2 separate regions of the Homo sapiens genome follow, and region 1 is linked to region 2. Evidence: fine-mapped expression QTL. Tissue or cell type: thyroid. Region 2 holds a variant in brackets; the other region holds the start of a gene. All regions are shown on one strand. Distances are between the middles of the regions. Region 1 holds the start of CCND2-AS1 (CCND2 antisense RNA 1). Region 2 overlaps CCND2-AS1 (CCND2 antisense RNA 1).

Region 1 (5,368 bases), 24 kb after region 2:
CGCGGGGGAACCGCTGGGAGCCCTGCCCCCGGCCTGCGGCGGCCCTAGACGCTGCACCGCGTCGCCCCACGGCGCCCGAAGAGCCCCCAGAAACACGATGGTTTCTGCTCGAGGATCACATTCTATCCCTCCAGAGAAGCACCCCCCTTCCTTCCTAATACCCACCTCTCCCTCCCTCTTCTTCCTCTGCACACACTCTGCAGGGGGGGGCAGAAGGGACGTTGTTCTGGTCCCTTTAATCGGGGCTTTCGAAACAGCTTCGAAGTTATCAGGAACACAGACTTCAGGGACATGACCTTTATCTCTGGGTATGCGAGGTTGCTATTTTCTAAAATCACCCCCTCCCTTATTTTTCACTTAAGGGACCTATTTCTAAATTGTCTGAGGTCACCCCATCTTCAGATAATCTACCCTACATTCCTGGATCTTAAATACAAGGGCAGGAGGATTAGGATCCGTTTTGAAGAAGCCAAAGTTGGAGGGTCGTATTTTGGCGTGCTACACCTACAGAATGAGTGAAATTAGAGGGCAGAAATAGGAGTCGGTAGTTTTTTGTGGGTTGCCCTGTCCGGGGCCCCTGGCATGCAGGGCTGGATGGAGGGAGAGGGGTGGGGGGTGGCGGGGGACCGCGTTTGAAGTTGGGTCGGGCCAGCTGCTGTTCTCCTTAATAACGAGAGGGGAAAAGGAGGGAGGGAGGGAGAGATTGAAAGGAGGAGGGGAGGACCGGGAGGGGAGGAAAGGGGAGGAGGAACCAGAGCGGGGAGCGCGGGGAGAGGGAGGAGAGCTAACTGCCCAGCCAGCTTGCGTCACCGCTTCAGAGCGGAGAAGAGCGAGCAGGGGAGAGCGAGACCAGTTTTAAGGGGAGGACCGGTGCGAGTGAGGCAGCCCCGAGGCTCTGCTCGCCCACCACCCAATCCTCGCCTCCCTTCTGCTCCACCTTCTCTCTCTGCCCTCACCTCTCCCCCGAAAACCCCCTATTTAGCCAAAGGAAGGAGGTCAGGGGAACGCTCTCCCCTCCCCTTCCAAAAAACAAAAACAGAAAAACCTTTTTCCAGGCCGGGGAAAGCAGGAGGGAGAGGGGCCGCCGGGCTGGCCATGGAGCTGCTGTGCCACGAGGTGGACCCGGTCCGCAGGGCCGTGCGGGACCGCAACCTGCTCCGAGACGACCGCGTCCTGCAGAACCTGCTCACCATCGAGGAGCGCTACCTTCCGCAGTGCTCCTACTTCAAGTGCGTGCAGAAGGACATCCAACCCTACATGCGCAGAATGGTGGCCACCTGGATGCTGGAGGTAGGTCGGGGGGTGGCGCTCGCCAGGAGCCAGGACCCCTCCGGATGCTCGGGTCCCCGGCCGGAGCCCTAAACCTGGGAGAGGGCAATCCCCGCGCCGGCCTCCCGGCTCCTGTGCGGGAGTTTACCGCGCGCCTTCTGGCGAGACGCGTGGCTTTATTTCTGTTCCTCTCCAGATAAACTGGGGAGGCAGAGGGGGGAGGAAAATCTGGGAGAAGCGAGGCTGTCCTGGGCGGGGGTAGGGGAGCATCCCGCGCGCGTGTTCCTGCATGTGGCTGCCTCTTCTTCCCACCCCCCTCGCGACCTGTCTTTTGCGAAGCCGCCGCGGCTGCTTGCGCTGCGGCCAGGAAGAGAGTCGGGGCCTGAAATCGGGACCCCGAGTAGAAAGGCAACCCCCCCCAAAAGGCCAGAGCAAATTCGTCTTGGCCTCAGGTCCCCGCCTGTGGTCGCGACTCCGCGCTGGCACTTCACCGGGGAGGTGGAGGGAGGAGGGAGAAGGAGAGAAACGGGGAATTCGGGAGCCCCGGAAGTCCCATTGAAGAAACGCGTGTTTCAGGGGAACCCAAAAGAACCGCTTCTTGCCCCTCACTCCAAGTCTTTGCCCAGCGAGCCGTGTGCCCACGTATGCACAGCTCTGGACCTGCCGTGGTTTCGCCATGTTGCTTTGCAAACTCCCTTTGGAAAGGCTGGGAAACGTCGCCCGCTTACCCTCGCACCCCATTATCCCGGCCACCCCACTTCTAATCGTGCCCTCTCCCCCACCCCCCACCTCACGAAGATTACTTACAGTTTGGTTTTCCAGCTTCCTCGGTGCGGAGATTTGGGTGGGGTAGGAAGGGGGGGAGGGGGTGTGTGTAGGGGGGATACCGGGTCACCCCTGAAGGAGAGGTGGGAGCCCCCCGTGCCTCTTTCCAGGGCTCTCTGCTCCCGTCTTTCCCCTCGCTCGTCACCGCGTTCCCTAGTTTCTGTCCTTGTGGGCCGCAGCCGGACACTCCCGCCGCGGCGCTCACCCCTTCAAGTTTCCTCCCGGGATCCAAAGCCCCAGGGGTCGGAATACAGACCTTTCTGGCACCCGAAACCTCTGTTTCGGGAAGCCTGGCTCTTCTTTGGGGTTTTCACGCCAAAAGGGCTTTTCTAGGATATTTCCTCGATTTTTAATTATTTTTTGAAACCATCCCCCCCTGCTCCGACTCCAGCTGCCGAGGCTGCGGCGCTCTTCCTCCTCTCCTCCCTCCCCCTCTCTTCCCCACCTCTCCTCACCCGCCCCCCCAAAAGCGGCCCCTGGGCCGCAGGGACCCCCCCAGACATTTTTTCCAATTGTCGGGAATGATAGAGGAGGATCTGGGGATCCGGATGAGACCAAGAAGTGGACCCCCGGAGCCTCCAGAATATTTTTATTGATTTTTTGAAAAGATGACGAAATCCAAAAAAGAGTGAGTGAGTTAGAGTGCGCGAAGGAGTAGCCAAAGGGAGCGTCGCGGAGCTGCCGCGGCTGCTGCGCACTTCTCCGACTCCCCGTTTTGGAGCTGTAGTTCACCCCCTTTTATAGGATCCCTGGGAATACCAAAGCACTGATGGGCTATTCTGATTCACTCCAGTTTCCTCATCTTTGTTCTTTATTCTTATCACGCATTCTGGTCCCCTCCCCCTCCCACAAAAAAAAATTAATTTTTTTTGTTTCGATAGATTACGCTTTTTTATTCTTTTTCTCTTTTGCTGATGCTATGCTCTCCACCCCCGCCCCCCAACCCTTTCCCACTCCCATTATAGGTCTGTGAGGAACAGAAGTGCGAAGAAGAGGTCTTCCCTCTGGCCATGAATTACCTGGACCGTTTCTTGGCTGGGGTCCCGACTCCGAAGTCCCATCTGCAACTCCTGGGTGCTGTCTGCATGTTCCTGGCCTCCAAACTCAAAGAGACCAGCCCGCTGACCGCGGAGAAGCTGTGCATTTACACCGACAACTCCATCAAGCCTCAGGAGCTGCTGGTAATGACCGGCCCCTTCCTCCCTTCCTTTCTGCGATTCCCGCTTTCCCCTGGCCAACAATATGCCTTCTATCACCACTGCCAGAGCAAATTCTTGGGATCCAGAATGACCCCACCAATAGAATTTACCCACTTATGGGCGATAGCTCATTTAATAGGAAACCACTGTTTATTTTTTGTGTGTTCCTACTATGTGCCCAGGCTCCGTGCCCAGCACTGAGGCTACATCTGTGAATAAGATCCTCATGGAGATTTGGGTTGGTGAGACTCATTTGCAATTGTGTATGCATGTGTGTAGGGGACGCATGGAATATTTTAATTAACAGTGATAATATTTTAATTAAATTCCAAATTTCCAAAAATAGTCTGAGAACGTGTTCACATGATAGGTATGTGGCTGTGGTGTCTCCTAAAAACTTGGAGTTCAAAGGTAATGCCCTCTATATCTACAAAGTCTCAAGATACCAACACATAATAGCTGTTCACTAAATATCAGTTCATTGACTTTTGAGCAAAGTCAAAATGTGGCCTTTCACTGAAGGAGTCCGAGGCCTGGGTTCCTACCTCCAGTGGGACTGTGACCTCTGTACAACCCCAGGGATCCTGTCTTATCTCTGCTTTTCTACCAGGGAACCTTTTTCCCACCTGATCTAACTCCTTTTCCCTGCAGCTTGACATATAAGACGACCATATTGCAGCTGTACCGCATGGAATAGCGGCTCCAAGGCCCACCTTCGGTGGTTTGCACACCCCTCTTTGCACTGTTCAGAAAAGCACCCCCTCCTTCCCGCCCCTCCCCCTCCTCACTGGTAGGGCCCGCACAAAGTCCACAGGGCTGAGGCTGGCTTCTTGAACTGAGCTCTTTGTGAGGAGCCTTCCTTTCTGGGGCTCTGCTGCCATCTAGTGGAAGACATGCACAAGGTTGGGGGAGGAATTGCCGAGAATGTGGAGAGGGGCCTGAATGACTTCACCTTTGAACCGCTGCCAGGTTTTAGCTGCTTCTGGTTTGGTCCGAGAGGCCTAGAAAGGTGCTTTCTTCTGGGAGATCTGCTTCCTTTAATAACGGTGCAAGACCAGTGGTTCGTACTCGCATTACCCTGTGAAGAGGAAGGGCTGGCATTTCAAGCCATCTTTGAAGATGATGGTGGTTTAGTAGTTTATTGGGGTGCTTTACCCCGGCTGTACACAGAAAGCCAAGGCAGATTTTAAAGCTTATGAAGAAAACATTGTTAGAATTGGGAACCAATTTGTTTTTCTCATGAGAGAGCAGGAAAAATCATCTTCATATGGTTCATTTGTTTCGAGAGGATGGTGAATTGAGATGTTCTTCAGGACACCCAAATCTTTCCAGGACTAGCCAAGCAATATATTGCTACAAACAAACTTGGCTTTTTCCTATTCCCTTTATCCCAGAAGTTGGGATTTGGAAGAGTCCTATTTTACAAATGAGAAGGCTGAGGCCTGGGAGGGAAAGGGAATCACCCCCAGCCCCACAGCTGTGGGACTGGTGCTCTGGTTGCTGGTTTAGCAAATGAAAGAGATTCCAGGTTCTCCAGGTGAATGGGAGAGAGGGTGCATTGGCAAACAGGCCCTGCCTCTCATTCTTCTGATGACAGCTCAGTGGATAGGCATATTTTCTGGTAGCACATACGATATTTTTAATGTTTTATTTTGGACCGTTTCCCTTTGAGCACAGTTTCCCGTAAGTATCTCAGTGAAAGAGGGAAACAAGGTTCTTTTTCAGGTGGGTTGCTGGTGAGAGACCCAAGAGACAGGGTTGTGTGGTCCCCACACTTGCACTGAGGGATGCTGTGACACTGAGCAGGCACCCTCACCTTGCCCCAGATCACCTCCATCTGCAAAATGAGGTTGCTAATGACCATGTGGTCCTTTAGTCATGATGACAATGGCCTGTGAAACATTTAGGGGAAAGGGCTGAGTGTCACATCCCCAGAATTTCTGCCTGATATGTAAAAGGGGAGTTTGAGCAGCAGAGAGATAAAGGCACTTTTTGGCACTAAGTAAAAGCAAGCTAATTGGTTGCCAAGGAGTTGGGCCAAGGAACCTTATTTTGAGCTTTATCTGTGTGCATCA
Region 2 (5,368 bases):
TGGTAGATTCTTCTGGAAGTGGGGGACAAAAGAAAGAGGGCCGTTAATGAAAGCTTCTGATTGGCTGCCTCAGTTACAGGGCTTTCCTGCATCCTTCATTCCCAAATGGGCTTCTCACATTTCTCCTTGTTACCTTAAGGACTCGGAACATGGCCGGGCATGGTGGATCACACCTGTAATCCCAGCACTTTGGGAGGCTGAGGCAGGCAGATCACTTGGGGTCAGGAGTTCCAGACCAGCCTGGCCAACATGGTGAAACCCCGTCTCTACAAAAATACAAAAATTAGGCAGGCGTCGTGGTGCACGCCTGTAATCCCAGCTACTCGGGAAGCTGAGGCAGGAGAATTGCTTGAACCACGGAGGCAGAGGTTACTGTGAGCCGAGATCATGCTGCTGCACTCCAGCCTGGGCAACAGAGTGAGACTCTGTCTCAAAAAAAAAAAAAAAAAGACTTGGAACAAAGTTTTCTAATACATGGCCTGCAAATCTCTCTCTCATTTCTTCCAAAAAGCACCTGATTTTGTCTACCAAGGATTCAACACTATTTTGTCCTGTTAAGGGCACCCTGTCTCACTGATCATTAAAAAACCAACCTAGAAATGTCTTTGAACAGTCAGTAAAAGCCCACATCTTTTGAACAACTACTGTATACAGACACTGGCCGGGAGCTACGGGAGATATAAGGGAGTAAAAAAGACTCTGACTTCTTTTGGTTGAGACACAAACCAGGGACAAATCACAGATTTTGATGGCTGGGGTTCCAATATTGTGTTTGAGTCCCAGCTCATCCTGTAGCCACTGAGCACTTAGGCCCCCATTTCCTTCTCTGTAATATGGTGATAAAAACAACATCAACTCATGGGGTTCTTGGGAGAATTAAATGGATAACCCCATAAAGCAGTTACAGCGGTAGGTGGCACATGGTAAGTGTTCAATAAATGTTGTCTGATCATCTGAGAAATGTACTCATGCAAGAAGCCGCTAACACCAGGAGATGCCACACCAGCGAGGTCACATGATACCTAATAGCCAAGGCCAAACGAATAGTAGAGAGGGTATATTTGCTGCAGGAGAATAGGGTATGAGTGTTCTTGGGGGCACCAGGACCAACTGGGCCAGCTTCCAGAGTGTCTGAGACTTCTGTCACCCAAATGACTGGTTTGAGCCACAGCCCACCCAGGGATGAATGTGGAGCAGCCTGGACCTCAGCACACTTGGGGTTTCTGTCCCCCAAAAAGAACTTGGAGTCTTACGGGTGTGGGGGATGGCTGGTCAGGAAGGGATTCGCAGAGTGGAGTCACTGGCGCCAGGGACTCAAAGATGGACAGGATTCCCAAAGGTCAGGGGCAGAGATAATAAAGAGGCCAGCCTAAGGGCAGCCCGTCTACTCTTTCTAGAGGCCCCCTTGATGGTCACCTCTTCCAGGGTTGAACATTATGCACTGTTGGGAACGGATTCCTCTCTCTCCCTGAAATTCCCCAGCTGCTGCTCAAACAGAAACCTACTTTTGCTTGCCTGGCTCTTGGTGGAGCTGTTACCTACATCCCCTCTCCTAAAGAGCAGCCCTTCTCAGAGCTGAGGGCTGAGGTCCCATCAGCCCTTCCCTCGGGCTTTCTCCTCTCCCGAGGACCATGTTCTGCTGGCCTCCTGGAAGCCATGACTCGCCTTTGTGCACGGCCCAGCACAGAGAAGCCAACCCTCGAGGGGACTTTGAGGTCTCCCCTGGCAGGGACCCAGGCTTGTGGCTGCTGTGTAGTTGCTGTCTCCACCGCCTCCACCTTCCAGAGCTGTAGGGGACACAGCTGCCACTGGCACCCCTTCCCAGTTCAGCTCAGAGACTTTATTCTCAGGACCCTGGCATTCCACTCTGGGCCATCGCGGGGGATTTCAAGTGAAAAACAAAACAGAACAAAAACTGAGGAATGTCTTCCTCGGTGAAACAGAAGCCCAGCTCTGTCACTTACTAGCTGGGTGACCTGGGGAAAATTACATGACTTTTCTGTGCTTTGGTTTCCCAATGTATTAAACAAGGATAATAGTAATTTCTATTGCGCCTGTTTGGAGGAGTGAGTGAGTTGATATAAAGGATGCGTTTAAAACAGTGCCTTTTACAGCATTAGGGAACTATTGGCATGTTGTTCTTTTATAGTGGTTAAGGGTGCAGGGTACTGAATCAGGCAGACGGTGGAGACATCAATTCACCTCTCTGAGCTTCAGTTTCTTCATTTTCTTAAAATGAGG[G/A]TAATGACAGTACCTACCCGTTAGACTGTGGGAGGACCAAATGAGGTGATGCACGCTGGTGGTTTTATGTGAATGATTTAGCGCAGTCCTTGGCATGTAGTGAACCAGAAAAAGGCTTACACCTTTAAAAGAAAGAAAGAAAGAAAGAAAAATCTTGAAAGAACAAAGGAAGGAAGGGAGAGAGAGAGAGACCAAGAGAGGGAGGAGAGGAGGGAGGGAGAAAGAAAGAAGGAGAGAAAGGGAGGGAGGGAGGAAGAAAGAGAGAAAGAGAGAGACAGAGAAAGAGAGAAAATAAAAGATAGAAGGAAAGAGAGAAAGGAAGGGAGGGAGGGAGGGAGGGAGGGAGGAAAGAAGGAAGGAAGAAAGGAAGGAAGGAATGAAGGAAGGAAGGAGAAAGGGAAGGAAGACAGGGAGGGAGGAAGAAAACCCTGGCTGAAAAAATAATGACCAAACTCATTAGAGATCTAAGACAGGCAACCCAGCCTCCAAAATGCAGCTGGCTACAACAGCGCCTCCAGTCTGCAGCCTCCTCCAGAGTGGTCTCCACGCTGGGTTATCCTCATGCCCTCTTACTGTTCCTGGTCTGGGGTCTTGCACATCATAGCCACTGAAGTAAACAAGTGTCAGATGAACAGCATGTTTAAACATGTCTACTCAGCCCCCAGGAAAACAGGGGAGGAAAAAGAATCCTTTTAGAATGTTACTCTACTTGTTCAACACACAGGGTTCTACCATCCAAGAGGTGGCTGTGTGAGGGTGGCAGAGATGGCATGAACCAGCCACCGGGCTGTTGAGGGTAGTAGTGAGTGCCCAGGCTTTGGCTTTTGAGAGACTGTGGTTCATGTCTTGATTCTGCCCATTTCTGGCTGCAGGATTTGGGCAAGTTTCTTAATCTTTCTAAGCCTCAGTTTCCCTCATCATAAAATGGAAATTGTAAAACTTACCTCATTAAGGAGTTGTGAGAATTAAACGAATTATTTGTAAGATACAGACAGTGCCTGGTAGAGGTAAGTGCTTCATATATTTGGGCTGTTGTTGTCAACCCTGGATTTCCCAAAAACCTGAAGACAGCAGGGCATTCTGTACATTAAGTTTTAGGGAAAATCTTGTACCTTCTTAGTTTTTCTGGTTGTGGGGCAGGAGAAAAGGGGTGTGGTCATGACCTGAGCCCCTGGAGTGCTTCTGCCCAGCATCAATGACATGTGCCCACCCTGCTTTGGGGTCATTTTGCTCCTTTGGCTGCAACTGTCATTCCCCTCACCATCAACACCCCCTCCTTCTGCAGAGACGGTGAACACGCTGGCATTGTTCCTTCCAGCCAATGGCTTCTCTCTGGCCTGTGATTGGTACCCCCCAGATTCCAGTGCAATCCAGGCATCCCAGCTATGTCAGCGTGACTCAAATTGTGTGTGCCTGACATCCACATGGCCCCGTAGAAGGCTGGCTCCAGCAAGAGGGCATTTGGAACGCTGCTGAATGCTTGATGGCTGCCAAGTTATCTTTTTGGGGTTAGGCCATTAAAGTTGCATCTGATGTTTTATGGAACAAACCAAGATAAACTGCATGTTGAAATCCATGAGACATGAAGAAGATTTTTACAGATGAAGACACAACGGCAGCTAAAGTTAGGTGGGTTTTTTCCCCCTCAAAACTTTGTAGTTTTTCTTCCACACGGCTATTTCAAAGCAGAAGCAATCCTCAAAAGTGAAGCATAGACGCTGCCATAGTAACAGGTTCAGCGAGACCTGGAGCTGCTGGGGCACCTGGAAAGAACATGGATCTGTCTCTCCGCTCTCATCATCCCAACCAGAGTCGTCTGCTCCATTCCTAAATTCTCTACTCAACTTTCCTCACGTACCCTGACGAAACGTCCTTTTCTGTGCAAACCTAAATTTGTCCTGGTGCTTTTTAATGCATCTCCCAGCCCTCTCTATTCTCATGCTACTTGCAAGCGACCAAGGAGCCAGTCACTCCACCCAATTCCTGGCCCTCTGGGCACACTGTGCACCTTCCGACTTTTGTTCCTGGGCTTTGTCACCTTTGTCCAGAGCACCCTTCCTTTCCACTTCTGCCCACTGTTCATCCAAGCAAATGGTCCAAGAAGAGTCCACTCAAATAACAGGCATACTGCCAGGCAACGATACGATAAGAAAGATTAGCAGACCAAGTATCAGAGCCTTTTAACCCTTGAACCCAGGACTCAAGCACACCTCCTCCAGGCAGCCTTCTCAGTCATCCCCTCGACTGAACCCCTCAGTCTCCCTCTTTTTGCACTCCCTTAACCTTCAATTGACCCCCGTCTCCCTAAGTAAAAGCTGTGTGTGTGTCTGCTTCCCTCCAGACTGTAAGGCTGTTGAAGATGGAGACCTCAAGATGCTCATTCTCTTTCTTGGACCACTTAATTGATAGAATCAGGACTTCAAGCTCTTTCTCCTTCCACTGGCACTTGAATGCATAAAGAAGCAAGTGCGACGATGCTGATGGCACATTATGTATACAAGCAAACAACTGGTGAAGGAGGGCCCCCAAATGCCATTAATTATGGGAAGTCGTAAAATTCTGGCATATCCTTGCTATTGAAAAGCATTCTGCACTTAAAATGAATGAAGTAGATGTATATGTACTGGCATAGCAAGACTCCAAGAGATGATTATTCACTGAAAAAAATCAAGTCACAGAACAATATGTTTGGCATGATCCTATTTAGGTTTTTAAACTGTTAAGTTCCAAAAAGAAAACCATCAGGATCTCTCTGATGTGACTGAGGAAACGATGAGTTATCTGAAAATGTTGGGAAAGTGAGAAATCATAAAAAATGAATCATACATACCATACACATTTTATTTAAAGTTAATGTACATTTATTTACCAATCTCTTGGTAGCAGTCCAAAGCTTTTTGAGTCTGGGTCTGTTGATTAGAGCTGTATACCATTTTACTGAGTATGTAAGCCATACTCAGAATGCATTGTCTAAGACTTCTAATTTCATTTTCTTTAAAGTGGGATGACAAAAAGTTATGGATACAGTAATTTGAGCACAGGATCCTAAATTATGCTATGTAGAGGCTGTGTGATCTACATAAGTTAAATATCATTGTTGAGCATAAATTTCCAATCTGCAACACAG

Evidence for each region. PIP is the estimated chance that this variant, and not a neighbour inherited with it, causes the effect.
Region 1: it holds the start of CCND2-AS1, and the variant in region 2 is fine-mapped to the expression of CCND2-AS1 in thyroid (GTEx, PIP above 0.99). The same link has a PIP of 0.9 or more in transverse colon.

The regions. Positions count from the first base shown.
Region 1 is chr12:4,272,946-4,278,313 of GRCh38, forward strand. It overlaps CCND2-AS1 (CCND2 antisense RNA 1), which reads right to left and starts at 3,239. Exons shown (of 2, transcript NR_125790.1): 1 at 3,114-3,239. It overlaps CCND2 (cyclin D2), which reads left to right and starts at 817. Exons shown (of 5, transcript NM_001759.4): 1 at 817-1,290; 2 at 3,060-3,275. The coding sequence starts at 1,096. RefSeq lists silencers at 8-127, 658-747.
Region 2 is chr12:4,249,182-4,254,549 of GRCh38, forward strand. It overlaps CCND2-AS1 (CCND2 antisense RNA 1), which reads right to left. Exons shown (of 2, transcript NR_125790.1): 2 at 1-12. Among named protein-coding and RNA genes, the nearest start is that of CCND2, 22 kb to the right of the region's middle. The variant G/A (reference allele first, on the strand shown) is at 2,242.